2 separate regions of the Homo sapiens genome follow, and region 2 is linked to region 1. A link means that fine-mapping ties the variant in region 1 to the expression of a gene that starts in the linked region. Tissue or cell type: T cells. Region 1 holds a variant in brackets; the other region holds the start of a gene. All regions are shown on one strand. Distances are between the middles of the regions. Region 1 overlaps SFMBT2 (Scm like with four mbt domains 2). Region 2 holds the start of LINC02648 (long intergenic non-protein coding RNA 2648).

Region 1 (2,913 bases):
AGTGGAAAAGGATTTGGTATGGAAAACTTTTTATTTTATTGGAGATTAAGTCTCACTCTGTTGCCAGGCTGGAGTGCAATGGTGCGATCTCAGCTCACTGTAACTTCTGCCTCCCCAGTTCAAGCAATTCTCCTACCTCACACTCCCAAGTAGCTGGGATTACAGGCACACACCACACGCCTGGCTAATTTTTGTATTTTTAGTAGAAATAGGGTTTCACCATGTTAGCCAGGATGGTCTCGATCTCCTGATGTCGTGATCCGCCCACCTCAGCCTCTCAAAGTGCTGGGATTACAGGCATGAGCCACTGCGCCCGGCCGGAAAACTTTGTAGATGATTTTATTCTCAAAAAGGGTAGATACATTGCTAAGAATCAACATCTTACCTTAAACACTTCCATTGGAAGAGGAAATTTGGCAGCATCAATAAGGGATTTTTCCAGAGTACATTTCCATTCAGAGGCCATCTTCAAAGGATAGATTTCTGTATCAACAGCAAATCACAGAAGAGTTGAAGGACTAACACGTTCTGCCGGGTGACTCTTTCCTGCATGCTAATTCCCAGGCTTTCCTGATACCTCAGCACGGTCAGTGACCGTGAGTGTTCACACCCCATACCCACCATGAGCAGCCACCTGCTGAAAGGACTTTCTGAAATTAAATAGCAACTTGGGATTCTGCTGTCAGAAATGAAGAATAAACTTAATAGAGCTCTTCTTCAGGGAACATTTGTATGCATTTAGTTGGCATTCTGTAAGTAATTTAATGGTATTAATCACATTAGCAAAAACCTTCAGTCATCCATGGGCCAAAATTCCACCTATCACCTAGGAAAGCAATGCCCACTGATGAGGAACTTATTATCTGATACATTTCTAAACTACAAACGACTCTAGTCTGGCATTTGCAGTTATGACAACATATTTTCACTAAATCTCTAAGCTCTCATCTGCTAAAAATAGTCCCTGTAAGTCAGAAAATTATTAAAAGGTAAATTAAAATTTACCAAGTTTAATATTTACACTTGAAATGTTGCTTAACACACCACATGTTGCCCATATTTTTCCCCAGGCAGTGGGAGGGGGGGCAAGATTTACAGATGGAGGTTACACAGTCTGAATGCAAAATTAAAAGGAAAAAAAAAAACGTTGAGCACTGTTTTTACCTATTGCTGAAACTGCAGGAGAATTTTATGGCCTGATCTCAACAGATTTAAGACCTTATCAAAATAGGATTTGCAGAAGCCCTCACTGGAAGTAGATATGTTTATGCCTTCAATATATCAACCCAGGCTACTTCAGACAGACGCTTAGGATATGAATATGAAATTAAGCACAGTTAAAAAGCAACA[G/A]TAAACCTTTGGGACTGTATTTTTAATTTCTTGCATGTCTGCTTTTTAGCATGAAGCGATCTATTTTGATCCTCATAGCTTTTGAACTCACCTTGAGCTTTAAGCCCCTGTTTCCGCAGTTTATTCAGTCATAATTACAGTAAGTATCAGATCCTGCCAGAACTAGCCAAGCCATCGGTGCACTGCCCGAAGTCATTGTTACTTACACAAAGACACACAAAGGGTAATTCACAACCACACATCCTCTGCGTGTGTGCATTGTCTATAATCCTTTCTAGTGTTTCCTGTCTGCTGAACTTTTTTCTTCTAGTTTGGCCTTTCTAAATTCTTCTTAGTAGTAGCTAACGTAATTGGGAACACTCAATGGGCCTCAACACACACTTCTGTGGAGACTGAAAGAATGGGGCCTCTGATGTCCACAGTGAGAAGGGGGCACTCAGGAAGACACTGCTTATCACAGGATCCCCAAAAGTAGGCACAGGGACCAGTTCACAGAGCCCCCTGCAAGCTGCTCCATGAGAGCGAGAGGGATACCTGTGCACTCAGGCAAGCTCGTGGGCACTGCATCCAAACCACGGAGAGACAGAAGGCCACTCAGGGGACCCCGGGGAGCAAAGCCCTGAGGACGCCAACGCAGGATCAGGAGAGAAATTGCCAACAGGCTGGAGCTCCTGATGGGACAGGGACCATAAACACATGCCCCTTTCCAGCAAGCTGGGCAGGCAGATGGAGAGTTCAACCTGGGCATGGTAGGAAAAGGACCAGCTCACAGAAAACAATGGGGATTACCAAAGAAAGAATTTGAAGACCCAACAGGTGCAAAAAGGAAAAGCATGATCTACCTGGCTGACACCTTTGGCCCCTTGCTTGGGAATCAGGACTAGTTATACCCTTGACCCTTGATGGTGGTCTCTGAATGGGGGAGGGATGCCCTGAGACAGAAGAGAAGGTATAAGAATGGTCAAAAAACACCTTCATTGGGAGGCTGAGGTGGGTGGATCACTTGAGGTCAGGAGTTCAAGACCAGCCAGGCCAACATGGTGAAACCTCACTTCTAATAAAATTTAAAAAAACAAAACAAAACAAAAACAAAAATTAGCTGGGTGCGGTGGCAGGCGTCTGTAATACCAGCTACTCGGGAGGCTGAGGCAGGAGAATCGCTTGAACCCTGGAGGCGGAGGTTGCAGTGAGCTGAGATTGTGCCACTGCACTGCACTTCATCTCCAAAAAAAAAAACCAAACAAACAAGAAAAAAAAAACTTAAGGCCAGGAGGAATGGAAATCCAACATGACCAGGGTTAGATCCAAGCTATGAGAACTCACGGAGAGGATGCTCTGGCCCCAGTGGGGTTGCCTGCACGCTGGCCCAGGAAGGCAGACCAACCAAGTCATCCCTGAAAAATGAACTCCTCTGTCCACTGGATGCCATCTCTCCTCCTCCACACCAGAGACAAAGGTAACAAGAAGCCCAGGTGCCAGGTGGGTCCTGCCTCTGTCCTACAACCTGAAGATTCTCTGTTTTCTTTCCAATGGTGTTAAATCCTGGAATGAACCCAGCCCACA
Region 2 (2,913 bases), 660 kb before region 1:
TTTGTGAAAAGTCAGATAAAGAGACATCATCTTCTCCTCCAAACAGAAATGTCATGACTGTGCTTGAGGGATACTTTCAAGATGACACAAAACCAGGTTTTTGGAGTGCTTTGAAGATGGAGAATGGCTTATTAACACTAGTCACATTGGCAGATGTTTTTCATAACATCAACCAGTTGAATAAGCCTCTGCACAGCCCTGGAGAAAATGTTTTCACCAAAAATGTCAAGAGTTTTTGGATTTAAAAGAAAACTAAAGTTTTGGAAAAAACCATGAGGCAAAAGAAATCCTTGAGATGTTTCCATTGTTGCTTGGGCCTGGGGCCATCAGTAAGTCTCAATTCTTATTGAGCAGAACCTGGCAGCACTGTAGAATGAAACTGAACCATACCTACCCTCTCTTTAAACACAAGTGCATGACCAGGCGAGGGAGCGTTTCGTTGAATCTTTGACTCAGTCTGAGAACAGAGTCTGGAGAGAAGAGGAAGAATCCTGCACCCCATGCAACCCCAGACTCTCTAGATGGGACTCACATATCACTCTGGAGGCGAGTCCTGGGTTTCTGGGTAAGAGAGTGCTCTGTCAGCCTCAGGGAAACCATGAACACTTCACTGCAGTTGCAACTTCCCGCACATAGGAACAAATTTTCTGTTATTTAATAAACACCAAGAGCAAGGGAAAAAGTTGTAGCCCTTCAGTTGACAATGACATCTGTGTGTACCTCAAGTTTGACTCAGAATTGAATTTTTAGGCAGCACATGTGTCACATTAAAGAAGGTCAAGTTGATCACCAATGACCAATGGTTTAATCAGTCACGGCTTCGTAAAAACTAAAAAGGACAGAATTCAGAGGGCTTGCAGTTAGTGGAACACGTGGAGGGCCCTGGAGGGTGTCATGCCCAGGACATGATAGCTCTGTACCCCATCCCATGTATCTCACCATATGCATCTCTTCATCTGTGTCCTTTGCAACATTCTTTAGAATAAACCAGTAAATGTGTTTCCCTGAGTCCTGTGGGCTGCTCTTGCAAATTAATCAAACCCAGGGAGAGTCGTGGAAACCCTGACTTGATGCCAGTTGGTCAGAGTTCAGGAGGCTTGGACTTGCAACTAGGAGGAAGGAGGGGGTTGGGGACTGAGCCTACAACCAATGGGATTGGTCACTATCTCCAGGTAGATAGAGTTGGAATTCAGTTGGAGGACACCCAGCTGGTGTCCACTGCTTGGTGGTGAGAAGAAACTCCCACACCTTTGGTCACAGAAGTCTTCTGTGTTTATTGTTCTAGTGTGAGAACAGAGGAGAAGCCTGGTTTGAGTGAGTTTTTCCTGAAGCAAAAGGGAAGAGCTTAATTTCAAAAGGTAAGTTAGTTATATTTTTCTCTAGGAAACAATTGATTGCTTAAAAAGATATGATTAGGCCGGGGGCAGTGGCTCATATCTGTAATCCCAGCACTTTGGGAGGCCAAGGCGGGCGGAACACCTCAAGTCAGGAGTTTGAGACCAGCCTGGCTAGCATGGCGAAACCCCGCCTCTACTAAAAATACAAAAATTAGCTGGGCATGGTGGTGGGCGCCTGTAATCCCAGCTACTCGGGGGGCTGAGGCAGGAGAATCGCTTGAACCCAGGAGGCGGAGGTTGCAGTGAGTTGAGATCATGCCACTGCACTCCAGCTTGGGCAACAGAGCGAGACTCCATCTCAAAAAAAAAAAAGATATGATTAGTTTTAAACAAGGGAAACAAATTCCACTTGCATGTACTATGTGTCACACATCTTTAGCCTTTTGTATCCTGAACATCATTTAAAACTTCCCTCCAGATTAGAAAGTTGAAGTCTGCTCATGGGGCCTTCAGTTGCTGTCTTAGAAATTCACTCTCAGGGTGTCAGAAAGTCCATCCTCCATAGGCATTTACAACAAGGAATTTGATTCCTTCTATCCCTGGTCAACTCCAGGCTTTTTAAAAAAGTAGCTTAATAAATATTAAGAGTGCATTTTTCTTTGTGAAGTTTGACACTCATTAATTAACACAATTGTTGGAAATGGGAATTTTTTTTTTTTTTTTTTTGATGGAGTCTCACTCTGTCACCCAGGCTGGAGTTCAGTGGCATGATCTTGGCTCACTGCAACCTCTGCCTCCTGGGTTCAAGCGATTCTCCTGCCTCAGCCTCCTGAGTAGCTGGGACTACAGGCGCGCACCACCATGCCTAGCTAATTTTTGTATTTTTAGTAGAGGCGGGGTTTCACCATGTTAATCAGGCTGGTCTCGAACTGCTGACCTCGTGATCTACCCTCCTCGGCCTCCCAAAGTGCTGAGATTACAAAGATTAGTGGTAGTAAAGCGGTATGGGTGGCCTAAAATATTTTAGAGACATTACTTACACTTAGAATAGCAAATTACATCCCTATCTGGGCCTGTGTTTAGAATGAGTCAGACGGTTTTTTGTTGCCTGGTGACAGGCGTTGGGGTCACAGAGTCCTCTTTCTGCGATGTTGTGTATGACCCAGAGAGTCTCTGGCAAGATGTGGACAGATCTCTAAAAGGTCGGGGAGCTCAGTCTCCACGAAGCTTGCAGAACCCTCCCCATCTGCCTGCTAATAAACGATTACGTATAAAAATGTCTAAATACGTGGTGGTGTTGAATCTGTGACTTGGTTTTATTATAACCAGGTGGCAGGAAAGTAGCCAACCCTCACTCACATAGAACTTTCCACACTACTGTTTTCTCTTCCAAAATAACCAAGAATTTTTCATGGTCAAGTACAAGTGGAAATGGCTGTCGGTTTGCAACAGCCAGGTTTACCAATGGATAGTGTTTTGCCAGGGGGTGGGACCTAGAATGAAAGGGGCAAGAGATCTGAAGGATGGGCAATGGGAGTGGTTGCACTATGGATCTGTAGAATATTCATCCTCCTAA

The links. PIP is the estimated chance that this variant, and not a neighbour inherited with it, causes the effect.
Region 2: it holds the start of LINC02648, and the variant in region 1 is the best candidate, but not a certain one, in a credible set for the expression of LINC02648 in T cells (TOPMed, PIP 0.82).

The regions. Positions count from the first base shown.
Region 1 is chr10:7,276,507-7,279,419 of GRCh38, forward strand. SFMBT2 (Scm like with four mbt domains 2) reads right to left here. Exons shown (of 21, transcript NM_001387889.1): 7 at 386-483. Among named protein-coding and RNA genes, the nearest start is that of SNORD129, 91 kb to the left of the region's middle. The variant G/A (reference allele first, on the strand shown) is at 1,351.
Region 2 is chr10:6,617,419-6,620,331 of GRCh38, forward strand. LINC02648 (long intergenic non-protein coding RNA 2648) reads left to right here and starts at 1,298. Exons shown (of 6, transcript NR_120634.1): 1 at 1,298-1,358.